Homo sapiens: one gene and its partners. The protein of the gene in region 3 purifies or fractionates together with the protein of the main gene of each other region. This does not show direct contact. Each region holds a gene or a part of one and is shown on either strand. Other genes may lie near its edges. The genes, in order: LEMD2, ERGIC2, SLC39A8 and ST7L.

What was found.
Region 1: the proteins of SLC39A8 (region 3) and LEMD2 purify together in Homo sapiens (affinity purification with mass spectrometry; 3 studies listed by BioGRID and IntAct, with this or other methods). This does not show direct contact.
Region 2: the proteins of SLC39A8 (region 3) and ERGIC2 purify together in Homo sapiens (affinity purification with mass spectrometry; 3 studies listed by BioGRID and IntAct, with this or other methods). This does not show direct contact.
Region 4: the proteins of SLC39A8 (region 3) and ST7L purify together in Homo sapiens (affinity purification with mass spectrometry; 2 studies listed by BioGRID and IntAct, with this or other methods). This does not show direct contact.

The regions. Positions count from the first base shown.
Region 1 is NC_000006.12:33,772,131-33,779,130, reverse strand, and holds part of LEMD2 (LEM domain-containing protein 2), read left to right. Parts: intron 1-743; coding exon 744-889; intron 890-1,891; coding exon 1,892-1,993; intron 1,994-2,074; coding exon 2,075-2,177; intron 2,178-6,352; coding exon 6,353-6,503; 3' UTR 6,504-7,000. UniProt on the Homo sapiens protein: Nuclear lamina-associated inner nuclear membrane protein that is involved in nuclear structure organization, maintenance of nuclear envelope (NE) integrity and NE reformation after mitosis.
Region 2 is NC_000012.12:29,371,137-29,378,172, reverse strand, and holds part of ERGIC2 (endoplasmic reticulum-Golgi intermediate compartment protein 2), read left to right. Parts: intron 1-6,502; 5' UTR 6,503-6,539; coding exon 6,540-6,645; intron 6,646-7,036. UniProt on the Homo sapiens protein: Possible role in transport between endoplasmic reticulum and Golgi.
Region 3 is NC_000004.12:102,342,480-102,349,355, reverse strand, and holds the start of SLC39A8 (metal cation symporter ZIP8 isoform a precursor), read left to right. Parts: upstream 1-3,873; 5' UTR 3,874-4,011; intron 4,012-4,102; exon of another isoform or gene 4,103-4,440; 5' UTR 4,441-4,693; coding exon 4,694-4,912; intron 4,913-6,876. UniProt on the Homo sapiens protein: Electroneutral divalent metal cation:bicarbonate symporter of the plasma membrane mediating the cellular uptake of zinc and manganese, two divalent metal cations important for development, tissue homeostasis and immunity.
Region 4 is NC_000001.11:112,525,142-112,532,177, reverse strand, and holds part of ST7L (suppressor of tumorigenicity 7 protein-like), read left to right. Parts: intron 1-2,012; exon of another isoform or gene 2,013-6,066; coding exon 6,067-6,165; 3' UTR 6,166-7,036.

The DNA of each region.
Region 1 (7,000 bases), on a different chromosome or scaffold from region 3:
GGGAAGGCAGCCTGGAGGGTGGCAGAGCCGCTCAGGATGACCATATTGAAAGTGGGTCCTGAGAAATCAGGACACTTGGGATGCCAGCCATTCCAGCATGCAGCCTCAAGAGCATGATATTCTCGCCCTGGGTCACCTAGCTGGAAGAAGGCTCTGGTGTCCCCACCTCTGCAGGTCCTGACACCTCCTGGCCAGAGACCATGGTGGAGGCGCCGTGGCTGGGGTCTGGCCTCGGAGAGCCTGGTGGTTTTCATTCCCCATGAGCCTCACGGATTCCCCATGAGCCTCATGGATGCCCCATGATCTTTACACTTAAACAGCTTATGTGCCTCCTTGTCACCGAGGAAAAGTGCAACCTCCCAGATTCTGTCTTTCAGTTCTTGCCATGCAATTGCAAAGCTAGTGATTCAGTAAACATTTCCATTTCTCTATGCTGGGAGGTGGGAATCCAATTTACAGTTTAATCTCCTGCATGCTGAGAGAGGCTGTCAAAGACCTGACAGGGGGACGTTGCTTTAGCGGTAGGGGTTCAAGCCTGCTGCCGTCTTTAAAGCTTTATTCATTCTAAGTAGCCAATGTGGGAAATTTCTGGAAAGAATGCAGCCAGGATACCAAGCCTATTCTATAAGCAAGTAGAGGCCTTGCGTCCCCACTTTCCTTCGCTTCCTCCTGTTTGAAGTGGGGCTTGCACTGCCTCTCCTTGGAGCTTTCCAACATGTTCAGAGCCCTGTGTCCTGTTTCAGGTTGAAAGGAGAAGACCAGTCTGAATTGGTGACGACTGTGGACAAGGTGGTCTGCCTGGAATCTGCCCACCCCCGCATGGGTGTTGGCTGCCGCCTGAGCCGGGCCTTGCTCACTGCTGTCACCAACGTGCTCATCTTCTTCTGGTGTAAGTCCTCGGCCGCCTTCCCTCCCCTTCTGTGCAGTCAAGCATACTCCTAGGCATGAATGATGAGCTATAGAAATTCCAGGCCCGGAGGGTTCATTTCTGTCTAGTGAACCTGAGGTCTGTCTCATAAAACAGAGGAGATGAACAAGTCAGCCTCTGCCCTGGGTTGTATTTACCTTTGGAGATTGGTGGCAGGAATCCGTGAGGATAACTAGAAAATGTCCTTGATTCAGGGCAGGGGACTGTCAGATTTCCTGAGCGGGAGCCTGGCCTGAGCAGGAGCTGGGCCCCACCCCTTCTGGGCTCTGCAGGGATCCCAGTGTGGACCAGCTTCGAGCAGGAGGCACAGCAGGGGCTTGGCCTACTTTTACTCCCTGAAAAATATAAACATCTCCTGGAGAGCTACAGATACCTGATGAAAGCAAGAAGGACTCAGGGTGCTGCACTGAAAGGAGGGCACCAGTCTTATCCCCTGACATCGGGGGCCGCCTTTGAGCAGAGACCTCAGGGCGTCTCTGAAGGCGAAAGGCCAAGTCACAGAAACCACGGCTTTCCAGAGATAGTTGGAGCTACAAATCACAGACCGCCTCAGTGTGCACACAGCTCCCTCCCCTGTGCCATCAGGCACAGAAATCATTATCGGCAGCAGCATCTCGGAATACAAAGGGCCCCGGCATGTATATATGTATGAAACACTGTGTTCTGGTTCACAAGGGAGGAGATGAAAGCCCCAGAATGAGGTTGGGAGGAGCCGAGATCTGGACGGCTGGGGATGCCGCTGTGGTGACAGCCGGTGGGAGGAAGATGATCACTTAATAATCTGTCGTCCCTCTGCATTTCTGTATCTTTTGTTTCTCGCATGCTGGCCCTGAGCCTGACACATAGTAGGTACCCAAACCCATGTGGTGGATCCCCCACAGCATCCATCACAGCATCTTGTCCATGGTGAGACCCACTGCCAAATGAAGTGTGAGGGATTAACAGTGTTTTGTTCCCTCACAGGCTTGGCTTTTTTGTGGGGGCTCCTAATTCTCCTAAAATATCGGTGGCGAAAGTTAGAAGAGGAGGAACAAGCCATGTATGAGATGGTGAAGAAGATTATAGGTGCGTGGCCCCCTGGTGAATAAAGGGTTGCCGACGCCAGCCAGAGGGTCCTTGCCCTAAATGGTGTGCTCTCTCCTGCAGACGTGGTCCAGGACCATTACGTGGACTGGGAGCAGGACATGGAGCGCTATCCATATGTAGGCATCCTGCACGTGCGCGACAGCTTGATCCCTCCACAGAGCCGGTGAGTCCCTGGCTGGGGCGCTGGGTGTGAGGTAAGATGGGGTCCGACCCCACTGAGCTCCCCAGAAGGAAACCCAGAGCCTTGCATCAGATGTCAGCTGAGGGCAGTGCAGACCCCAGGGCCAAGAGTGGCTCTGCTCCCACTCCTGCTGCTCCCCAGCATGCTCGGCTCTTTATGGCAGGATGAGCTAGAAAAGACATATGAAAGCACAATCCCACACCTCTGTAGAGAGAACACTGGCAGTGGTGATACCAGTTAGGAGGCCTTGGGCTCCAAGTAATAGCAGCTCCCTCCCCCAGGGCACAAGTAGTGAAGGATCTCCTCAGTCTCTGTAAGTGGAAGTTCAGAGCTGCATGGGCTCCAGGCACAGAACAGTCAGGTCTCCGGTTCCATTGCTCTTGTGATTCTCGTGGTCCCACACTCCTCCATGGATGTTATCAACAGACTGGGGTCCCTCATGGTTGCAGATGGTGGCCAACAGCAGCTGGGGCACTGTCTGCCTTGTCACAGCCAGCAGGGGAAAAGTAGGCCTATTGTTGTCTTATAAGCAAGAGAACATGTTCCCAGTAGCCTCCAGTGACACACTCCTTGAGGCTTTATTGACCAGAATCTCTTACATGTCTGTTTATGAATCAGTCACTGGCAAGGAGGAGGAAATTGTTTTTCAAACTTTTTAAACCATGACCTGCAGTCAAAAACACCTGTTACCTGCAACATCATGGTCCAGTTCCCACACACGCATGCGTACACTCATGCATATACATGTAATTGAAAGCAAAGTTTCACAACATGAATGGGGTCAGCTTCCAGGGCACATAGCTTCATGGGAAGGGGTGGCAGGGCCACTGTCATGTGCAGCTGCAGGGCACCTTCCACATGGGCTGTGACTGCTGGAGTTGTACACTGGGGTCCTGACAGAACCAGGGTGGGGGAGGGCAGAGTCCCAGGAGACAGCCAGCAGGGCCCCCCCCAGTGTTGGCTCTGGTTGTGGTCCCTCCCTAGCAGACACTTGCTGTGGTTTCTGGCCAGATGCTGTCATCTGCTGGGTGATGCTGAGAGCTCACCCTTGCTGAGTGCTCCCTGGGAGCCGGGCACTACTTGGAGCTCTCCACAGATGCAAACTCACTCACTTGGTCCTCACCATGGTTCACGCACACAACAGAAGTGGCCCCATTTTACCTATAAGGGAACTGAGGCACAGGGAAGTAGAGGAATGTGCTCAAGAGTCCCATGGCTAGTGGCATTTCCGTGCTCCCGCCACCAGGCTCTACTGTCAACATCATCCCTATCTGCAACCCAAGAGGAATCAGAAAAATAGAGCCGTTAGCAGTCCACTTTAAGTCAGGCACAGTGGCTCACACCTGTAATCCCAGCATTTTGGGAGGCCAAAGTGGGAGGATTGCTTGAGCCCATGAGTTCAAGACCAGCCTGGACAACATAGCAAAACCCCATCTCTACAAAAAATAGATATTAGTGGGCATGGTGACACATGCCTGTAGTCCCAGCTACTCAGGAGGCTGAGGCAGGAGGATCACTCGAGCCCAGGAGGTCGAGGCAACAGTGAGCTATAACTATGCCACTGCACATCAGCCTGGACAACAGAGCAAGACCCTATCTCTTAAAAAAATAAAAAAAAGGTCCATCTTAAACATGAAGGTGCTTGTTGCCTGTCATGCTCACCTCACCCCTGGAAAGGTGGCAGGCAGGAAGTTTAGAGTGAGCAGACTCACAGCAGCATGGGCTGTGCTTGCTCTGAGGAGCGCTTGCTGTTGGTTTCAGCGTGAGGCCCTCTACCTCCCAGGGAGGGTGACTTGGGGTACTCAAACTCCCACCCAATTCCTGGCCCTGGCAGGAGTATCGTGACAATGAGCATCTCAGTCAACCTGTGCCACAGTTTCCTTATCCTAAAATGCAGGTGATCCCGCTGCCTTGCACAGGGCTGTGACGAAGAGACTATCATTCATTCATTCATTCATTCATTCAGTTCCTCCACAAATGTTTATTGAGCACCTACTACATGCCAGACACCCTACTGGGTCACAGGGAGACAGCAGGAAGTGGAAGAAACAAAAATCCCTGTCCAGCTGGAGCATTTGTTCTCAGGAAGGAGACAGATGACAAGATGCATAAGGAAAAGATGTGATATTAGGTAGTGACAAGCCCTAAGGGAAGGGGGGTTGGTATCAGGGTGGTGGCCTCAAAGTTCATTAAGTCACTGCCTAGTAGCCAGGCACGGTGGCTCATGCCTGTAATCTCAGTACTTTGGGAGGCCAAGGTGGGTGGGCCACCTCAGGTCAGGAGTTCGAGACCAGCCTGGGCAACATAGTGAAACCCCATCTTTACTAAAAATACAAAAATTAGCCGGGCATGGTGGCATGCACCTGTAATCCCAGCTACTCAGGAGGCTGAGGCATGAGAATCACTTGAACCCAAGAGGTGGAGGTTGCAGTAAGCCGAGATCATGCCATTGCACACCAGCCCGGGTGACAGAGCGAGACCCTGTCTCAAAAAAAAAAAAAAAAATGGGAGACCAAGGCGGGCAGATCACAAGGTCAGGAGTTTGAGACCAGCCTGGCCAATGTGGTGAAACCCCGTCTCTACTAAAAATACAAAAATTAGCCGGGCATGGTGGCAGTCACCTGTAGTCCCAGCTACTCGGGAGGCTGAGTCAGGAGAATCACTTGAACCCGGGAGGCGGAAGTTGCAGTGAGCTGAGATCACACCACTGCACTCCAGCCTGGGTGACACAGTGAGACTCCATCTCAAAAAAAAAAAAAAAAAAAAAGTCAGTGCCTAGCACGTGGGCATCATCCAAGGGTAGCCATTATGCCTTGGGCTTAAATGATATTCCACACACATATTTGCTTAAATAAGAGCATGAGACGGCACTGCAGCTTGCCTGCAGCCGGAGCTACCACCCAAGCCTTCGTGCATTAGCATAGATACCCAGAGCTGCTGCCACTCAGGTAGCCGGCCCTCAGGGTCAGAGCCATGTGAACCCCAGACGCCCATGCTCTGTTTGCTCTCTTGACTTACCTCCCAAGCCACCCAGTCAGTCCAGGCCAAGCTCCCCACGTCAGGAGACATTGGCTAGCCAGTCAGGTCTGCCCTGTAGATGAGGGCCTGCTTGGGAAAGACTGAGGGAGATGAGAAGAACTGGCCTGGGAAGGAGGGGCTGGAGTGAGACACTGCCCACTCAACACTGGCCGCTTCCTGCTCAGGGACCCAGCACCTTGGAGCTCAGTCCCCAGGGAATGTGTGGCCTCGGCCAGACCAGCCAAGTTGGGGCTGCTGAATAGGCCCATGGGGTTTGGTTGGTGACAGGTCCTGACCCCTGGGGAAGCCCTAGCCCCCCCCCCGCCTCCTGACTCACTGGCCACCTCCGTTTGTCCTCCCCTTCTGCTCCCATGCGTACACACTCACAGTCACTGTCTTTCCACGTGTGGTGTCATGGGGAGGTGGGCTGCAGTGATGAGAAAAGGCTGGGGGCTGTGCAATACCATGCTTCACAAAGGGAGAAGATCAAAGTGACCCTCCCCCATGGCTTTGGAACCTTCTTGTCCAGTCTGGAAGGGGGGAAGAAGAGATGAGGGGAAGGCTGTCCAGGGGGGTGCAAGGCCCTAGAGACCCAGCAGAGAAGGGACTCTGGCCACTGAAGGGGCCCTCCGTTGTGGCTCTGGTTCCCTAGAGCAGCTCCAGCTTCTTGGCCTCCCCCGTCTGATGCTTAGCTCATCCCATCCCCTGGAGTGCTGTGGAGCTTAGATGAAACAGCCCAGTGCTCACTCTTCAATGAGCCCACCCAGAGCAGCATCAAGATGCAGTTGGCGGGGTACTGGAACTGGCTTGGCAAGGGCTGCGCAGGCAACAGGTCCCAGCAAGAGTCAGCTAGCCTAGCACAGCCCTGCACACCTGGAGACCTGGGGGTGCTCCAGACACCTCGGCCCTTTAGCTCCCTTTAATTGAATGTGTTTGGATCAGTGAAGGTTGAGGAATCATTTCTCTATGGCCCAAGACGTTTTTCTCCTCTGCAGTTGTCATGTTAGTACCTGCCAGCTTTTCCTCTCTTACATAAATTCCATGCCAGAGCCTGGAAATGTGTGCCCTTTGTAGGAGGGGCATCCACAGGCTGGCTCACCTCGGCAGTGCCAGGCAGAGCCCCGTCCCTCTCATTGCAGGAGGCGCATGAAGCGTGTCTGGGACCGAGCTGTGGAGTTCCTGGCCTCCAACGAATCCCGGATCCAGACGGAGTCCCACCGCGTTGCAGGAGAGGACATGCTGGTGTGGAGATGGACTAAGCCCTCTTCCTTCTCTGACTCAGAGCGATAAGCCCCGGGCGGGGACTTGTTCCCGGTCAGCCTGTCCCAGGACAGCCCACTCCAGAGGCACAGGAGGGTCACCAGGCCTGCGGTGCTGAATTCACACTTGCCTTGACTTTCAGTCTCGTCCTGACACGATTCCAAAGGTCTGCCATACTCTTCAGAGGAGTTCGGCTCGCAGGAAAATGTGGGCTTCCTTTAAAGGGAGGGGGAGAAGCCAGGGTGATAGCCCAGACTCTGCCCTGTTGTGCTGGCAGAAACGGGGAGAAGGGTTGAGTTTTCATGAATAGAAAACAAGAGCAGCAGCTGTCAGGCCCAGCTGACAAGCGTGGGGCTGGTGGGCTGGGGCATGGCCACGCCAGGGAGTCTGTCACCTGGGAGGTGGGGCAGGGATGGTGTTTCGGGTGGCGGGATGGGGAGCAGCTTGGTCCATGTGCCTTCAGGGGGTTGTTACTTGAGAGCTCCAGGGTGAAGGGAGAAAGCCTGTGCTCTGGCTGGCTGGGCCTC
Region 2 (7,036 bases), on a different chromosome or scaffold from region 3:
ATGGCCTTCTTAAAAGGACACCAGTCTCAGATTTTGGAGCACCCTGATCCAGTATGATCTCATCTTAATTAGTTATATCTGAAAGACTCAAATATTTCCAAATAAGGCCCATTCATAGATACCAGAGGTTGAGACTTCAACATATCTTGTTCAACGTATCAAATTGTGAGTTGACACAGTTCAGACTGCAACTTGGCCATATGTATTAACCAATTAAATTTTTCTCATATTGCCAAATATGTATTAAAAATAGAAGTTAACTCAAAACTTGGGTAGCAGGAAATAACTTTTGTCTTCATTTTTCTTTGGAGAATTAAACTTAACTGAGCAGACTATAAAAAGTTCATGAATTCTGTATTTTAATTTTGGTAAAGCATTTAATAGTCTCATTATATTCAGATGGATACAATGATGAAATATAGGCTGTGTGACTTTACTTACAGTGAGTGTTGATAATGTCTGTGTTCCAACCTGAAAGGGAGTCTCTTATGTCTTAGGAAGTTTTTCAAAATACAGTCACCCCTCCATATCTGTGGATTCTGCATCTGTGGACTCAACCAGTTGCAGATTGAAAATATTCAAGAAGGAAAAATTGCATGCCTACTGAACAAGTATTGTGTCTGTACTGAATACTTACAGACTTCTTTCTTTTCATTATTTCCTAAACAGTACAACTATTTACATAGCATTTACATTATATTAGGTTTTATAAGTAGTCTAAAGATCATTTAAAGTATACAAGAGGATGTGCATAGGTTATATGCAAAAACTACACCATTTTATGTCAGTGACTTGAGCATCTGAGAATTTTGATATCCAAGGGAGGTCCTGGAACCAATACCCCATGGATACTGAGGGACAACTGTCTTGTCTTAGCTCCAGCTGTTATCAGTGACTTTCTGGAGTTTATTTATGTTTGTTTTGTTTTTTAATATTCAAGACAGTTTAAGGAGAGACATCAAAGAAAACAGACATAGTACTGGAGATTGTCAAGGTATGAATAGCAGCACCAACCAGTGGGCAAAGGAATCTTGTGTAACGGCTTCTAACTAGATTTTGTGGACCAATACAAGAAAATGTATATCTATTTGAGAGGGGCGGGCCGTGTGGACAGGGAAAAGGGCTGGGTATAAAAACTGACCTAGAATTACATTTTTTAATTTTGCTGAATAAAGACATCCAAAAACAAAACAACCTCTGTTATATCTGTTTTTATCATTTCATAAAGGAAAGGCTGTTTTGACAAAATGGAATAAAATAATCTCAGAATAAAGGACACATTTTAAAATGGAATAAATTTAGCTTTAAAAGTTCTTTTCTACGTTGTCCATGACTAGAAAATTTTGTCACAGAATAGCAATGACTTCTGGCAAGCATTGATGATCTGAGGTATTTCCAAACACATTTTTGAAAATGGCTTACCACACTGAGTAGAGAGGCAAATAGAGTGGGAATGGAGCAATGAAATTGGGTATCTGGTAGGATTTAAAGGATTTGAGAACACCAGTGAAAATGAAGAGCAGATTTATCTTAGGAAAGAGCTTGAAGGGTAGTTCCTACTTGGGGAGGTAAATGTGTTTTGGATTTTAGAGGTGGAACAGTTTTAAGGGTTGACCTTGCTCATGGGTGGCTTTCCATAGAATTAAGATGGAGGTCACAGGAGGAGAAGCGCTGTTAAGCTTACATGGTAAAAAGGTTTTATTGTGAATGAATGCTATAGGATAAATGCCATCAGAGCATGAATTCCAAAGGATGATAATGGAGTGGGGGAGAAGCATATTGAATGATCTGGGTGCTGAAGTCATTAAGCAAATTATGAATATATTCAGATGTTAGTGGAATATAGCAACAAGTACGGAAGTGAGAATCAGTGTGTACTGTGGTTTGGAGCATAGTTTCAAGTTCTACCACCTGCTATGTAGCCTGGGAAAATTATTTGACAGTTCTGTGCCTCATTTCCTCATCAAAAAGTAGGATTAAAAATAGTACCTGCTGCTTCATAGAGTCATTTACAAGATTAAATGAATTAATGTTTAAAGAGCTTCAAATAATACATAGCACAAAACATGAGAGATGGTTGAGAAATATGGTAAAACATGATACTTCTGTAACCTGTGAGTCTCAGAAATGACTAAGGATTGGAATGGAACTGCTGCCAATAGAAAGTCAGGTTTTATAAAGAGAGCAGACAGCAATTTCTTTTAGAAAAGCTAGAAGTTATTGGATACCTTGTTTATGCCAGACAGTGACTTTTACAGTAGGTTGGCAAGTATGCAAAATGGAATGAATTTCTTGGAGGTAGGTTAGTGCTGAGCTTTCAGGAATGGGACTGGTGGAGTAGCTGAGGGGCGAGGTGCTCCATTCTAGAGTGATATCCCCTGGAAAACAGGGATGGAGGAAGCTAGAGATGGGTAGGGAGCCACATGATATATTCCAGCTAGACTTTCAAGGGAGGAGTGTTGAATAGGTTGTATGTATTATTAGGAGATTTGTAAAACTAACTGCTTGCCGTATCTTTATGCTTATATATAAATTAAAAGAGCATTTAGAAAGCTCATTATACAAATATAACATTTATATAAACTTTTAGAAATGTAATTCACTGTTTTATTCATTTGTTTAACAGTGCTATACTGACTATGTGATGGCCACTGTTCTAGGTCCTGGGACAGTAGACAACAGGAAAATCCTTCTTGTGGATCTTATTTTTATATATTTACTTACCTAAGTATGACATACTGCTGTGATTTGAAAGATGTGCTACTGTGGTGTTTCTGGGAAAATTTCCTTCCTTCCTTTTCTCAATAAATATTGAATACCTGTTCGCTAGGCATTGGAGATACAAAGATCAAGTTAGACATGGTTCCTGCTCTAACAATCCGGTGGAGGAAACAGAAAAAGAGGCAATTAGAAATAGTGTGATAAAGGTACAACGTTCTAGAAGCAGATAGACTTTGAAGGCCATGGAAAGTTTTTTTGTTCCCCCTGCTTGCTCAAGGTAGAGATGAGTAGACTGGACCTTGAAGAGTAAGTAGGAGTTAGTCAAATGTAGAGATGCGGTAGGGGGAAGAAAAAATATTTCTGGCAAAGAGAATAGGATATTTAAGGAATTGAAAGTGATTTAATATGGTTGGAACGTAGACTGTGAGTGATTGGGTTTGAAGAGAGGTTAGCAGGACCTGGTTTTTGAAGGGCTTTGTAAAACATGTTAGGATAGAATCCAAGCTCTTAAGTGTAGTGGGAAGGGAAGTTTTACAAAGATTTGAAGAGAAATATCAGATTTATGTATTAAAAAGATAATTTATTATTACAGTATAGAGAGAGAATTGGAAGGTTGAAGATTAGAGGTTGTTGAAGCAATGTAGTGATAGATTGTGGCAGTTGGGACTAGGAACATACTTGGACATAAGGAATTTCTCAGTAGGCCTGAAGAAGAGAAGACAGGCAGATTTAAGAGAAATTTAGAAATAGCTTAAGTCTAAAGATATAACCCATGTTTCTGGCTTGTGTAGTTGGGCTTATGGTGTTATCATTAAGATAGATACAGGAGGAACAATTTTTACAGGGTGAAGTATTCATTTTTGGACTTGTTGAGTCTGAATTGTGTTTGGAATGTCCAAATGAAAAGGTAACAGAAGGCAAGGGGTTATACATATCTGCAGAGAGATCTGGGCAGAGAATCAAGATTTGGGATAAATCAACATGCAGATTGAAATGGAAGGAGTGGGCGATCATTTGGGGAAGGTGTGGAGGTTAAGGGGGAGACCTAGTGCAGAATCTTGAGAGAAAGATGAATTTGCACAGTAAGCCAAAGAGGGTTTTCCAGGTAGAATGAAAATTGGGGATGTGATATCACTTAAGTCAAGGTAAGAGAATGTTTCGAGAAGAAAAAGAAGTGATAAGCAGTGTGTTTTCTCAGAGGTGCAGTTAGATAAGGACTGAGGAGTGTCTGTCAGTACTAAGGAAGTTAATTACCTTGCTCAGAGCAAATTTAGTTAAGAGGTGAGAGTTGGGTGAGGAAGTAGTCACAGTAGATGAATGGGGACAACTCATTCTTTTAAGTTGGCTGTAGGTGTGCTGCGAGAGATGTATTGTTGGAGTTGGACTTGAGTTTAAGGGAGAGTTCTGTTTTAAAGAGAAGAGACATACAGATATTTAATATTTTACTCAAATCAGAAAGAGTAGAAATTGAAAGATTGAAAAAGGGTCAGTTTTTGTGCAGTTACTACTAAAAAGGTACAGAAAATAAATTTGATTATCAGAGCTAAACAAGTTTAGCGGGCATGGCATATACATAACAAACATTCAGAAGCTTAATTTATCGATGGGAATACCAGTTTTATAACTGACGTGGGGGTCAGAAAACTGTCATCTGTTTTGTCTATGACATCTATTTTTTTCTTTCGAATACTAAGTGCATGGGAAAAAAATCATAATTCGAAGGCTGCTTTGTGAGTGTGGAACCAGCAAGGGAAGTTTAGTTGGTTGATTTTAATGGCAGAGGAAATCAATGTATTAATGCTTTCAACTCTACTGTAGAGTAGTAGCTCCCTGCTGGACTGATAAATAGTGCTCCTGGTCAGAGCTTCTTTCCTTTAGACAGTATTCATGTTTACTGCCAGTTTTTCATTCTCTGGCCCTTCTTTTTCTTTATGAATCTTCTTTCTTTTGCCTATTCTTTGTATATTAATCCTCCCCATTAGATTTCAGACCCAAAGTCTGTCTGCTCTCTTCCAGAGACATTATTTCTCTTATAGTGACTTCTGCAACTGTACGATTTATTCTATTATGTGTTGATTTTATTAATAAAGCCTTGATTACTGGGAATTCTTTATAATATTACCTATAGTATTATTTATAAATCAGTCATAAAAATTATGTAAATATCTAAGAATTCAGTTATTTGATTGGCTTTATAACATTTTTAGATGTAGATGACGTGCTGATAAATAGCAAGCAGCCAATTTTTAAATGTTTTGATTATAAAAATAGATAACATGGGAAATCTGAAGTTATATGTAAAGGCAATTAAAATTCATGATCTACTTTTAACATTTTTGTGTGTAGATGTTCAGTTTTGTTTCTTATGTATCTTTTCCTGTCTCCCATAAAGTTAGGATCCATGTGACCTTCTAGTCTTTTCTTATTGTATCAGTATCATGACTATTTTCTTATGTCATTAATTTTTTTTTTTTTAAATAAAAGAGTTTCAGGCCAGGTGTGGTGGTTCACATCTATAATCCCAGCACTTTTTTTGAGAGGCCGAGGTGGGTGGAAGGCTTCAGCCCAGGAGTTTGAGACCCAGCCTGGGCAACAAGGTGAAACTCCGTCTCTACAAAAAATACAAAAATTAGCTGGGGGTGGAGGTGCATGCCTATAGTCCTAGCTATTTGGGAGGCTGAGGCGAGGAGGATCGCTTGAGCCAGGGAGGCTGAGATTGTGGTGAGTTGAGATCACGCCACTGCACTCCAGCCTGGGTGACAGAGCAAGATCCTGTCTCAAAAAAAGAAAAAAAAAAGATTTTCAATGGCTACGTAAAGATGCTTCACCTTAATTTGTACATTGGATACAATGGATTTGTTTCTGTCTTCAGTATTTAAAAATAACACTGTGAGAAATATCCTCGTAATCAAATTTTGGTTAAAACCGCAGGTTATTGTCATAGGATAAATTCCTCAATGGGCATTTACTTAGAAGAGGAGTGGTGTGGTAAATGTCTTCTTCTTCTTTTTCTTCTTCTCCCTTCTCCCGCCTTTTCCCGCTTTCTCCCACCTTCTTTCTTCTTCTTCTTCTTCCATTATTATTATTATTATTATTTTTATTTTTATTTGAGATGGAGTCTCACTCTGTAACCCAGACTGCAGTGCAGTGGCATGATCTTGGCTTACTGCAACCTCCACCTTCCAGGTTCAAGCGATTCTCCTGCCTCAGCCTCCTAGGTAGCTGGGACTACAGGCACGTGCCACCACACCTGGCTAATTTTTTGTATTTTTAGTAGAGATGGGGTTTTCCCATGTTGGCCAGACTGGTTTCTCAAACTCCTGACCTCAGATGATCCACCCGCCTCGGCCTCCCAAAGTACTGGGATTACAGGCGTGAGCGACCGTGCCTGGCCTATATTCTTGTTAGTAATGTATGAGCAGGCCATTTTACTTCACTGTCATTCATTATTGGAAGTGTATTATTTTTATATAGTTTTCAATTTAATAGAAAACATTATCTTAATTTTTATATTTAGACATTATTCATGTGATTGAATTACTTTTCACTTTTTTTCTTGCTATATAATGTGTTTTTGTATTTAAATTGCCTTCCATTAGTAGTTTTTGTCAGGGCATGAATGGGGAAAGGAGTAGTGTGGATAAATACTATGCTTTTTATTTTTAAGGGGGGATGAGAATGTTAAGTTGTTTTAAGGACATTTGTCAGTTATCCTAAATTTAAAGAAACCTTTTTATCTCTTTAAAGGATTCATTTATTCATTAATTTATTTATTCCTTAGCATGACTATATGAAGGAAGAGGAAGGTTTTCCTGAAGATGAGGCGACTGAATCGGAAAAAAACTTTAAGTTTGGTAAAAGAGTTGGATGCCTTTCCGAAGGTTCCTGAGAGCTATGTAGAGACTTCAGCCAGTGGAGGTACAGGTGAGTATCAGTTAACATTAAAAGTTCTGTAGTAAGTACAACTTCTGCGTGATCCAGTCAACAACATATAGAAATGTAGCCATGAGGAAGAATTTATCAATGAATTCTGCCGTAACTTCGTAACTTGTCTGTCTTCATGCCACTCTGTTGGCTGTAATTCTTATTAATATTCTCTATAGCCTCCAACACAGTGCCATCTGTGCCTTTGGCAGTGTTTATTAAAACATTAATACATTAAACCAATGTTTCTGCTTTGCTGCCCTTTCCTAAATATGTGACCTTGAGGAAGTTATTCAAATCTATCTGTCTTAGTTTCTTCCATGAAATAGGGATCATACTAGTATTTACCTCCTAGGGGTTACTATACTATTAATATTTTCATAAAATGCTT
Region 3 (6,876 bases):
TGGGCCACTATGGCTCCCCTCCACACAGACACTGCTATACTCCACCTAACGACTTCCAGGCTGGATGGCAAGGAAGAGAAGGGAAGAAGAGAAAGGGGTGTGTCATCTTTTAGATTTCCTTATTAGTCCTTCCACAGAGAAAATGCATGCATGAAAATGTTTACAAGAGGCCAGTTTGCTTTATATTTGCGATAGTCACAAAAGATCTGAACTGAGAAAAAACTGAAATCATTAGAGAAAGTAAGATTTGAAGTTAACTGTCCTTTCACTTGGGGAAGTGAAGTCTTATTTCTTTTTTAGGGGTTTCATGTTTTGTTCTGATAAGTGACTTCCAAATTAGACACTTAGAAATAAAAAGGCTGGAATGGAGACTTGATATTCTTCTGTCCCAATTATCTTGTTTTACAGACAAGGGAATTCATCCTGGTGAGGTCAAATGAGTTTCCCAGGTTTCCCAAGTGCCTGAGTCAGAAACGTGACATTTTTCAACATCCTGGCCAGTGTACTTGGCATGCTACCCTCATTATCATTTAAAAGTATTCGACCTTTAAGGCAAATTTCTAAGAAAAATATATTTTATACATTATACATTATATTTTAAATGGGAAGTGTTTTTCTTTTGTAATAATATGACTTATAGAATTTGGACCCTAAAATTTATCTGGCTAGGTGCAGTGGCACAGGCCTGTAATCCCAGCTGTTGAGGAGGCTGAGGTGGGAGGATCACTCGAGCCCAGGAGCTCTGGGATGTAGTGGGCTGTGCCAGTCACTAAGTTTGGCATCAATATGATGACCTTCAGATGTGGGGTGGTGGTGACTGGGGACCACCAGGTTGTCTGAGGAGGTGTGAACTGGCTCAGGTCTGAATGGAGTAGGTCAAAACTCCGTGGTGGTCAATAGTTGGATTGTGCCTGTGAATAGCCACTGCGTCCTAGCTTGAGCAACATAGTGAGATCCTGCCTCTTAAAAAATAAATAAATAAATAAATGAAACATTATTTGGTTATGAGTTGATTTGAAATGCTTGGGACCAGAAGTGTTTCAAATTTGGATTATTAAAGATTTCTGAATATTTACATATATATAAAATGAGATATTTTGGGGATGGGACCCAAGTCTAAACACAAAATTCATTTATGTTTCATATACACCCTATAAACATAGGCTGAAAGTAATTCTATATAATATTTCCAATAATTTTGTGCACCTGTCAAATGAGGTCAGGTGTAGAATTTTCCATTGGTGTCATTTCAGCACTCAAAAAGTTTCATATTTTGCAGTATTTTGGATTTGGAATTTTTGAATTAGAGATGCCTAACCTGTAGTTCTTTGGTGATTATAGTTTATTAGACTGGATGATCTAGAAATTAGCCTTACCTATTTGGTAGTTAGTAACCTGAAATTTTCTGAACACTTTCTCTTAATTGCATTATGTTAACTGGGCTTAGTAAAGTTGGCATGCAGGTTGGTCATTTATTTTACTGTTTCTTATTTTGTGGACTTGATGGGCTGGCGAAATGTATGTGCATAGACATGAATGACTGATAAATAGATAAATTATATATTCTAAAAATCCCACAATGTAAGATTTGTATTTGTATTTGTATTATTTTCTTTTTTGAGGCAGAGTCTCACTCTGTCACCCAGGTTGGAGTGCAGTGTCCTGATCTTGGCTCACTGCAACCTCTGTCTCCTAGGTTCAAGCGATTTTCATGCCTCAGCCTCCCGAGTAGCAAGGATTACAAGCGTGCGCCACCATGCCTGGCTAATTTTTGTACTTTTAGTAGACACAGGGTTTTTACATGTTGGCCAGGTTGGTCTGAACTCCTGATCTCAAGCTATCTGCCCACCTTATTCTCCCAAAGTGCTGAGATTACAGGCGTGAGCCACAGTGCCCAGCCAAGATTTGTATTTTTAAAAACCTTTTATATTTGTTAAAATCTAACACTTTATGGACAAATTTAGTTTTAGAAAAGCTGGAAATAAACAACTTGCTGGGTATAGATTAGCCATTTAGAGCATTCATTAATTTCCAAAAATCATTTTGCATCACGGAGGTCCAAAGGAAAAATAGGCAACAAACTATATTTTAAAATCCAATGAAAGGCTTGAAGAGTCCCACGAGCTGAGTGATTTAAGAGGACAACTGTGATATTAACTTACTTCTGGCCCTTAGATGAAATATTTGCCCTTTTAGCATCAACATAATTCTGTAAATTATTATTAACAAATACGTAGATTTTATAATTGGAAAGAGCACAGTATTAAGATCATTTAGTTCATCTCCCTTCAGGCATGAATCCTCCTACCACCTACTAAAGGCGGTCACCCAGGATCTGTTGATTTGAATCACTTTTGATCATGGAGAAATCACTATCTTCCAAGGCAGCCATGCCTTATAATTCCACAGAAACCTTCCTCTGGGTGACTTTGCCCCATGACTGCTGCCTTCTGTCCTCTGAAGTTAGATATAATATAGTTAAACCTTCTTCCATATGACAATCCTTCAGCTTCGTCTGCCTAGATCCTTAGCCTCTGGGAATGTTCTCTACCTGTCTCTTTCTTCTGCAGTTATGTCTTTAGGTTCCTCTTCTAAGATTAAGATTTTTTCCCTTTCCCCATCTTTTCCCCTTTGTCTAGACTTAATGTCTCTTTAAAATGTGCTATTTTAGGAGGCTGTGCATTCTCCTGATGAAAGGCAAGAACGGCATCTTGTATTCTTTTTATTGTCCTTAGTCACGTGAATGCAAAATGTCTGAGACAGGTCTCAGTCAATTTAGAAAGTTTATTTTGGCAAGGTTAAGGATGTGCCCCTGACACAGCCTCAGGAAGTCCTGAGACATGTGCCCAAGGTGGTCGGGGGTACAGTTTGCTTTTATATATTTTAGAGAGACATGAGACATCAATCAATATGTGTAAGATGTACATTGGTTCAGTCCAGTAAGGTGAGACAATTGGAAGTGGGGGCTTCCAGGTTAGAAGTATAATAGACAAGAGACAAAAGGTTGCATTCTTTTGAGGCCATGATCAGCCTTCCACTCAATAGACAGTTTAGTCTGGCCCAGTGAATCTGCATTTTTTGCATAAACGATGGAGAAGAGAAAGCAATCAGATATGCATTTGTCTCAGGTGAGCCTCAGAGGGATGAATTTGAATAGAATGGCAGGCAGGTTTGCCCTAAGCTGGTCCCTTCTTGATGTTTCCCTTTAGCTTGGTGATTTTGAAGTCTCAAGATTTATTTTCCTTTCACAGCCATCTAACAGTGAAGCATGGTTTCACTTTACACTTGAACCACTATATCCACCAGATACAAACTTTGCCTCAAACACCACACTCACTTTACACAAACCTGTTGACATCACACCTAAGTCAGCTTTTCTTGAGCTCCCATATGAACAAATAAACATTCCTCTGATCTGCGGATATCCCGCCAGGAAGGGCCGGCTTGGGCAGTGCTGGCTCAGCTAGCCCGCCACCGCTACCATTGGATTTCCTCTTTCTCCTCTGATTTTAAGAAGTGAGAAAAAAAAGCAATTCCTGTTAATTATGTAGACAATGCAAGGGTCTCCAGGCTCCATTTCAGCAAGTTGGTTTCATCAAGATCACGAAAAGATGCATGCGTCCCCGAGACCAGAGAGGAGTTAGGGACCCCGACACGGAGGTGGCATCAGGTAACCCTCAGGAGTGAGGGTGGGGAAGAGGGCATGGCTGATGCTGGGAATGAGCAGCGCCCGCGGAGGGAAGGCCGGCGGTCCTGCGCCCCGGCGTGGACGCGCGCGGGAGTTCAGGCTGGGGAAATGGGTCACCACGTGCTACGGAGGCGGGGACAGGGCCCTCCTCCCCTTATTTGTAAAGAGCGCCGGAGCGGATCGCGGAGTTTCACCGCGGACCTGTCAGAGATACAGAGGTTGTGGGGGCGGGAGACAGAAAGAGAGAGAGATCCAGAGACCGAGTCTTACGTTGACACGCAGAGAGAAAGACGCAGAGACAGACAAACAAACAGATAGGAGAGGTGAGAGGCCAGCGAGTGCTTCCGATTAACTTGCCAAGCTCAGAGAAGATCCGGGGAGAGGGAGGGTCCCCTTTAAACGCGCAATCCCCAGGACTCCGGAAGAGCCCTTTTCTGCAGCTCCTTGGGGACTGCACGTCTCACTTCTAAGTTTGCGGCGGAGAGAATAAAGCAGAAAGACAGGAAGAGGAGGTGGAGTTCTACAGTTAGTGTGGTTTTAGTTTTTCCTAAGAAGTGGCGTGGTTTGGGGCTTTATATCCGGGAGGAGCATATGTACGCAAATCCTGGGGCGTTTGCAAACCCGGATCCGGGGCGTCTGGCCCCATGCCCGGCCGGGCGTTTGAGGGCTACTGCCACGCAGCGTTTCTGGAGCCTGCCGGCTGGTGCCCTGGTGGCCTTTATCTCTGTCCCCCTTTGTCCTCTTTATCTCAGGCTCTCCAGGAGGCCGGGGGGCCCACTCCGCCTATCGCTCCCCTCGGCTACGCTGCCACTTCAATGCCCCGCAGGTCGCGAGCTGCTGTTCTTTCGAAGGCGTCGGAGAACCAGGGGCGTCCCGCGCCACCTCTGACTCGGAGCAGCGCCGAGCACTGACGCTCCCGCCCTTGGGCAAGGACGCCAGTGCGCCCGCGCGCGTCCCTCTGCGCGGCAGCCCGTCGCGGGCCCTCAAGGGGAAGCCCAGGCCAGGATGGCCCCGGGTCGCGCGGTGGCCGGGCTCCTGTTGCTGGCGGCCGCCGGCCTCGGAGGAGTGGCGGAGGGGCCAGGGCTAGCCTTCAGCGAGGATGTGCTGAGCGTGTTCGGCGCGAATCTGAGCCTGTCGGCGGCGCAGCTCCAGCACTTGCTGGAGCAGATGGGAGCCGCCTCCCGCGTGGGCGTCCCGGAGCCTGGCCAGCTGCACTTCAACCAGGTAAGGCCGCCAGGTCCGGGCAGCCCTCCGTACTGTGGGTGTCCCTAGACTTCACTTTGTATATGAGCCGTTTTTATTTGGGAAAAGTGCAGGAGAAAGAATCTTGTTATATTTCTCAAGTAGAAGGCGGTATCTGGTGACACTTGCTTTTCACTAGACGAGGCTGAAGGATTAAAAGGTTAACGTTGTTAAGGGATTTGGCAGCCGGAAACTGCAGTTTTACGCCTGATGAACTGAGAGGTCCGACTCTGGTGATTTTAACATTTTATAGAAAACTTTATGAAGTAGTTGAGGGTGTGACGCCACTTTAACAGATGCTTTTTAGATAGGAATGAGTTACTTAAATCTTGCCAGAAAGATAACGGCTCGCACACTTCCTACAAGGTTAGCAAGGAAGATTATCACATGCCACCCTGGTTAACAGTTGCCCGGTGCGTAACCAGTGCTATTTGAAAACGAGATATAATGTAGTTCTGGCTCCTGTGTACATTACATGAGGCATTCAGGGCTGAAACAGGGGCGGCCTTGAGACTAAGATTCTAATTTGGTCATCCAGATGGTGGTAGACTAGGCTTATATTGTTAGTTCCTTGTCATATGTCAGGTCAAATATTTGATTCTAGTATTTATCCAAAATGATTAAAAAAATTTTTTCAGTAATAAACAGGGTACTACTAGGCATTTGGCAATACCTTGGGTTTAAGAACAAGCTTCAAACTACGTAGGAGCAGTTAAACATCATACCTCTTTGTAAACATAAAATCAAATTATTCCTAATTATTTCTATAATAAATACTCTGTGATTGGGTAGTTCTTAAAATTGTTAAGTAGACAAAGTGTAGTTTCTGCATCCTTCCAAAACTGCTCTCCGTCTTTTAAAACTCAGTTAACTCAGTGCTTTGACTTGTTTTCCTTTACTCCTGTCCCACTGACAGCTGATATTGGAGGGTAGAATACGGTATTTTCCATATCGTTTGTCATTTTTGGACGATGTTAGTTTGTTACAAGAAGTTTTTGGGGTCCAAGATGTTTGGGAAATGCTGCATATTATACTCTGCTCTTGGAAATTTGGCGTTTCCTAATGAATATGACTTTAGATTACAGTTAGGGAAACTGTAATCAAATAAATTCCATGTTAATAACATTATACGTAGATTGATCTTTTTGTTAGAAATATCTTACCACAATTAAAGTATATGGCTCTTAAGAAAAGTAGAACTTTCTGATGCCATGGCATGTCAGAGGTGGTCTCTCTTTGATCTAGAAGGGTTTTGTGGTCCCCTTATGCATGTTCTTTAGTAAATTGTCTATAATTCCAGTTCTGGGCATGGTATTTTATCTGGGGTAATATCTGAGAAATGATGTGTTGGAAAAATGGAAATGCCCACAAATTATGCTAATATTTAAGAAAATAAAGTGTTTGCTGGCTAGTTGCATTCTTTTCTTATCAAATAGGGGAAACAACTGAGCTGACTCCAGTATTTCCAGGTAGGTATGGTCACGTGCTTGGAAAGAAGTTTAGAGGATTGACTTGAAGCTGCATATCTGTAGCCCACACATTGTTTTGACTTGCATGACCTCCTTATCTTGCAGTGTCTGGAGGTGTTGATGAATTTTAAAGGGGCAAAAGACCTCCCCACATCACCTTTGCAAAGACATTGGAAAACATGCCTAAATTATTTAGGAAAATTGGTTAAGTGTACCAGTAATACGATTCTCTGTTTATTAGCAGGCAGGATGTCTCAATAGGTAAAATTATATGTATCTTGACACCTGTTTTCTCATTCTCATGTTTGCATATTTAACTGCCCTCATTATGGCCTCTGTGGGCATCAAAAAGAGACAGGAAGAAGCCCATAATTACCTTGGAAAGAAAAGGAAGCCAAGGAAAATTTACCACTTAATAAGCCTAACAAACATCTCTTTGATGTTCTTGCTTTTTTTTTGAGACTGAGTTTTACTCTT
Region 4 (7,036 bases), on a different chromosome or scaffold from region 3:
GAAACTTTGCCCTCTGATAAAATTCAGCTGGATGTTTTTTATTTATTAGACTCTGATCCCTTTAGGGGTTTAGCCCTTATTGCGAGCCCAGGGATTCTAATTTGGCTAAGCCCTAGCTGTGAAGACTTTTCTTACTAATTTGCCCTTGGTGAATTTTAGCTCTTGTAATACCACCTTTAAAAAACAAAAAACAAAAACTGCAGTAGAACATGCAGTTCAGAGAGTCCTGGATAACCTGAAAAGAGTCTTCTTTGAATGTTGGCTTATTGAATGGAAGGACTCCAATAGGGCCTGTCTTGATTTGTTTTCAAAGTTTAGATTTGTAAAGAGCCTCAGCAAATTAAAACATGGTTTTAATTGTCCTATAACATGCTAAAATATGGTAATGATTGTCCTATAACATATAACAGGTCTTTGCATTTCAAATTCATTGGGTACCTGTGAAGTATAAAATATAATCCCTGTTCATAAGTAACTCATAGTCTAGTGGTAGGGGGTTTGAGATGGGCATGAAGATGTATTAGTATAAGGTGGAAGCTATTGCCACAATAGATGAGTTCATCCTTGAATATTCATTTATTTGACTGGAAGGGAATGGTGAGTTATTTTCACACGGCTCCCGTAAGATATAGTGACCCAAAAGGTCAGTCTAGACTAATAGATTATGCTTCCTTTCAGAAGAATTTATTCGGTTAGGTCAAGCAAGAACATATAGAAAGAGATATCTTTATTCTTTTCCAAATATGTGATGTGGAGTACTTTCATCTTTATACTCAGCAGCTGGAATTCATCTTTTTGTAAGCAGTGTTATTTATTATAATGTTTATATGAATATAATTTATCAAAAAATGGAGAGCTCCACAATTCAAAATTTAAGAAATGTCTCACCTCAGATTCACAGAGTAATTGCCTTAGACAAAAGCTCTACACTCATACATTTTATATACCTCTTTTATATCCTCTCATTCCTAATAATGACAGATTAATAAGAACTAATAGCCATCCTGGTTTTCAGTATGAAACAATGTGATTTCATGTGAAGAAGAATAGAATAGTAAGAGTTAGGACCAAAATTACTTAGTTCTTTGGGCATGTGAGAGAATAGGAAAGAGCTACCCAGAATTTTCCAGAGCTCACTTGATAATGTCAAGAGCTGCAGCTGGCAGTCACTGATTCTGAAAATAGGCACACATCATGTTAATCAAAAAACTAAATAAAAGGATATTGGGATAAGGCACTAAAATAAAGTTCCTTTTGCCCTTTCTTTATAGCTGGGTTTTGCTGATCAATTCTGCATTTTTTGGCAATTCTACCTCTTTACAGGGAGAACCACCAGTATTATTTTCTCTTTAAGTAACTGAAAAAATATTTCCTATCTTTATTGAGCTGTCTCATTAAAGTAACAGACTAGCTGGATCACTGGGGATATGACTTTGGGATATATGTTTTAAAATAGGCACAGAGGCTGGGTGCGGTGGCTCACTCCTGTAATCCCAACACTTTGGGAGGCCGAGGTGGGTAGATCATCTGAGGTCAGGAGTTTGAGACCAGCCTGGCCAACATGGTGAAACCTTGTCTCTACTAAAAACACAAAAATTAGCCTGATGTGGTGGCAGGCGCCTGTAATCCCAGCTACTCAGGAGGCTGAGGCAGGAGAATTGCTTGAACCTGGGAGGCGAAGGTTGCAGTGAGCCAAGATCACGCCACTGCACTCCAGCCCTAGTGACAGAGCGAGAATCCATCTCAAAAAACAAACAAAAAGGCACAGAACCTCTCCTTGAGTTTATACAAATTAGGCATGTAATCAGTAAATATGGTAAAATATGGTAAAATGTAATCAGTAAATATGGTAAAATGGTAGAAGAGCAGGCCCAAGGCTAAATTCTAAACTACTCATGCAAATATTATAATAATACTAGAGAGTTGTAGAATGTACTGATTAAACTAGTGTTGCAGTAGAAGAAAGGAAGATAAACTATTTGAACAACAACTTGGAGGCAGAAAACTGGGGATTCGGCTTTGGAATTTACTTTATTGGTAATTATTACTTCTCTAGCTTGTCGCTCACTTCTCTGAGCTTGTCACACCTACTGGAATAAGCAGAAATTGTTATTCTTTGCCTAGGTTAACAAAATACACATCTCCAGATAGTAAGTTAGTTGCATGATGGCATCTTCTAATTCAGAGGTCTGATTTGTAGCATATTGGTAAGGAGGCACATTCATATTTCTGGGTGGTAGGGAGCCCACTTTCATCCATTCATCTGCATTCCTGTTCAAACTAGCAACTGTGTCTGCTAACATTAGGTTCCCAGAAAAAAGATGTAAGTAAACCCCAGTTCCACTGAGCTCCTGTGAAGGTACCACCTCCATAGAACTTGGTTGAAAATAATGAGCATAGTTACCTTTTTTTTTTTTTTTTTTTTTAACTTTTATCTTTTGGATGGCATTGAGAGTAACCTTCTGTTTTTTTGGCCTCAAGTTCCATATTGAATTTTTTAAAATTGCATTTTGAGCAATAACATTTCCCTGGTTGCTTAACCAGTTATACAAGTTGAGACTTCTGTCTCTATGCCTATCTTATAATAGCTTCTCTGGGAGAACAGATGAAAAATAAGCCAGTTAGATATTTTATGAGTATTGAAATCCTTTCCATTCAGAAATGTAAATAAAACAACCAGCATGAGCAATCAGCTTATGTCAGATTCCATGGGTTTGTATTACATAGGGAAATTACAGTGCAACCTGAAACATGCTTCTTAATGAATTCATAGTGCTGTCACAGTTGAATGTAAACCCTTGAGCTTTTCTTTTGTGAAGGGTTTCAGAAATCACCCTTTATAAACTACCTAGGGGAGGGAAGAGAACTAAGATGATACTAACAAATGCTATCACTGGTTTTGTGGCTGCCTCCCTTACAGCACCAAATTTTGCCAGTTAAGTAAAGCAGAAACCTAGAATATGGCACACGTTTTGGCTTATTCAGTGTACACACACACACAAACACACAAACACACACACACTCAGTGCCACACTGGGTCAGACCCATAGTTCAATACTCTGTTTCTGAAAGTGGCACCAGGGAACTGCTTTGGAAGAATAAGATTGCCCTTATGGTTTTTATCCTCAGAAGTTAGGGAAGTTTGGTTAAGAAGTATGACAAAAGCCCCATAAGTAGCGATTTTTACCTTTAGCAAATGCAGGAAAATAGACACCTAACTAGAGATCATGAAGTTAGAATTTGTCTCCTTCTTTGGCTGCTACTTCAGCCCCTGGTAGTAAATTAGAATAAAGTTCCTCATTTATTAGTGAGCTGGTTTTGCAGTCTCTAAAGCTCTTTTGCAGCTCTTCTATTCACTATGGCCTCAGATACGATAAATCTGCTAGCTGCAAAAATTCAATATACCAAGTAGAATATGTAGGACCAGTCAAGTTTTAAGTTTGGGAGTGAGGAAAAGCAGCATGTATTTTCTATTTTAAATTATTTTCTTTTCACATTCTAATTTCTTAAGGGTTTGGCTTGATTTATGCCAGGTTCTGGGCCTGTAAGCCTACATTAATGTATCACAGTACTGGATAGGATATTTGATATCTCTTACTTAGCCCAGAATCTCAAATGATAAGGAGCTGTAGTTAATGATATGTAGCATTTTGTTGAACTTTACAGTGTAGATCTCTGTTAGTCCCTGGGTCTGTAACAAATGGACTCATCCTTGTGCTTTTCCATAGGTGCCCTGATGTTTACTGACATAAATCAAGATACTATGTGGCTCTATAGGGGATGCTGAACCATTTGACAGTCTAGGTGCACACAGTCACCTCACATTATTTAAGCCCTGATCTCAGCATTCTAATTTCTCTGTATTCCCCAGTGTATATAATGTGTACTTGCTTGAAATTCCTTATATATTGCTTGTACATTCCTGCTTCTAAGTTTCAGCACATACCAGTTCCCTCTATTTAGAATGCCTTCTTCTGACTGCCCTCAGTCAGTTCATAAAACACATAAAGCTATCTTTTAAAAATTCAACTCAAAAGTCACCTCCTGTGGAATGCCATCTCTGCTTAATCTCATTAACCTAATTCCTTTATTCTCAGACTTCTGCTTCCTAGTCCATTAAACTGTTTCATTTTATTGTAATTGTTGCTTCTGTATATTGTCACCCAGTAAGCATAATTATTCTAGGAATGATCATCTTCCTCCAGCCTCTTGTGTCTACTTATTACACACAAATATTTTGAAGGCCTATTGATGACCTTTTCAGTTTCCCCAGAGTTCCAGTTCACCTTCCTTACTGTTTCCTTTTACTTCATAGTTACATTCCTAAAGAAGCAGCGCATGTGTTCAGGGTTGGCCTCCACCTCAGCATGTGTGTGGCAGCCTGCTGAATAGATCCCTACAATTGGGAAGGAGTTAACCCTCTAGCTTGACAATCTCTGCATTCTACTTAGACACCTTCAAGAAGTAGATGTGAGACCAGGAGTAGACCTGAAAATGGGAGTAGGTAAATTTCCACGGAAAGCCAAGTTAGCTTTTTCCTTCCTTTATACACAAGACCTATGAAGCTGCTGTCATCAGCAGCTCATTCAACACTCTCCTGCTCTGCCTCTTTTCCAGGAGTCAGGGTTAGTTTAAGAAAAAGCCTCTTGCAAGAAGCCATGACCTCGTACTTTTATCCCCTCCATCTGGTGTGTGGCCTCATGGGGCTGTGCTGCTATGCAGGAGGTGAGCAATGGAATTCTTTAGATGATGACTTCTGAGCCCACATGCAGAGGCAGTTGGGGGTGGGAAGCAGGGAGAACAGTGAGAGCCAAGATCGATGGACCAAAAAATAAAGTCTGCCTTGGGGAAGTCCTGACTATAGGTAGACTGTTTTCATGAGGTGTTCTTCTCCTAGCTCAAGTAGGGGCCCAGGTCAGGGAGCTGCAGCATCCCAGAGCTATGATTGATGAACATTGTACTTTTCCCTTCTGTCTTAACAGTTGGGGTGCAGGATTAGGATAGGTAGCCTATGCTGTCTCTAACAGAAAACATTACAGGATTGAACAGAAGAGTTCCCCTTGCATACGTCATCTTTTGGAGCTGCTCTTACTCACTGTCTTGCGCCTAAACAGAGGTCCAGATTTTGGATGGGAAAACAAAGAGGGGTTGAGAGCAGCAAGTGTTTGATCAAGTGAAAATCTGCTGTCTGCCTCATCTCATGGGTTTCTCTGCAGGATTGAGACCCCTTGCCTTGGTGTACACAAATTGCTTGCATCAGCTTGAGATCCCAGGACCTTTGCCAGGCCACGGGTAGGCATCTGTCTGGCTTGGGATGGGAGTTTCTTAGGACACTTATTCCCTCATCTTGCTTTCCTAACCCAGGAGTTGACGTCATTTTTAAAAGGAGTGAAATCTCAAAGAAAATTCTAATACATACCTTCTTTTTTTTTTTTTTTGTGACGGAGTCTCGCTCTGTCTCCCAGGCTGGAGTGCAGTGGTGCATCTTGGCTCACTGCAAGCTCTGCCTCCTGGGTTCACGCCATTCTCCTGCCTCAGCCTCCCCAGTAGCTGGGACTACAGGCGCCCGCCACCAGGCCCGGCTAATTTTTTTGTATTTTTAGTAGAGACAGGGTTTCACCGTGTTAGCCAGGATGGTCTCAATCTCCTGACCTCGTGATCTGCCCCACCTCGGCCTCCCAAAGTGCTGGGATTACAGGCATGAGCCACTGCACCCGGCCTCTGATACATATTTTCAAAGCCTTAATAATTTTCTGTCATGACTACTTCTACTGTGTCTATACATTTAGCATAATTTCAAAAGGACTAGATAAAATTTTTAATGTTAATCTGAAGGGGAAAAAAGGAGTAGAATTAGGAGCCAGAGTTGTTTAAATGTGGAATATGTTGTATAGTGGTCACATGGTACTGGTGGTAATAGTGGCAGAAATGGCAAAAGAGCCATTGGTTGATAAGGTTCAGGAGGGCCTAGGCTGTTCCTTTGTAAACTGTGCTCAGATATACTCTCTTGGCTGTCCTGGGACTCCTACAGGGCTTGAACATTTTGTATCAATTTCTGTTTTGAAGGTGCTGGGACTCTGGTGCCCCCAACCCTGGGCATCCTCAGGCTTTGAGGAGAATACACAGGATTTGAAGTCAGAAGACCTAGGTTTGAGTTCTGGCTGAGCCACGCACTGTTCATGTGACCTTGGACAAATCACCAAATTTTTCTGAACAGCATCTGTAAAGTGACAGTAACCCCTACCTCACAGGGTTGTTGTGAGGATTACATATATGCTAAAGCATTTTGCATATGAAAAAGCTTCTTATGAATATTGTTATTCCTAGGCAAACCCCCCTTGGAAGCTGTCAAAAAGGACAACTGTAGATGAAATTGTCTTCCTTTTTTCTTCATTCAGCTTAGCCTTTCTGTTTGGCCAGGGCTACTTACAGGGGCTGTTGGGGTTGAAGTCAAGTCACCGCATTTTGGCTCCTTTGGTCAAAGAGAAAGAACTCTAATGTCCAGCTGCTCCATCGATATACTCATAGAATGGAAGTGAGCAAAGGAAAATTTTAAGCCAGGATAGTTAACCGTTAGGGGGCCAGTGGGAGAATGCTTGCCTTGCATTTGCACATCCAGAATGACTAAAACATCTTAAGTAAATGAGGAATAGCCACCGAGATGCTCAGAGATAATATAAGCCATGAGTGGGAAGTGGGAAAATGAGTTTGTCAACGCCCTCTCTTTTCTATCCCTTTACCTTTGAGGTCAGGGACAGGGCATATTACTGACACCCCACTGGCTATTGCCCTATACCTGCCAATCACCCAAAGAAAATAATAGCTTCTGAGAAAGCTCAATTCACTGTAGCAACTGTGATATATTTACCCTAATAAAGCCACCACTTGGTCTTTTCCAGTGCTTCTCTCTTATGGAGATCATCCCTGGAATCCAAAGCTCTCCAGTTTTCTAACCCAGTTAAGAGTTAAAAACAACCACAGGTCATGAGCAGTAGGCTTGGCAGTTATACCCCATGCAGTCATAGGAGACTGCTCC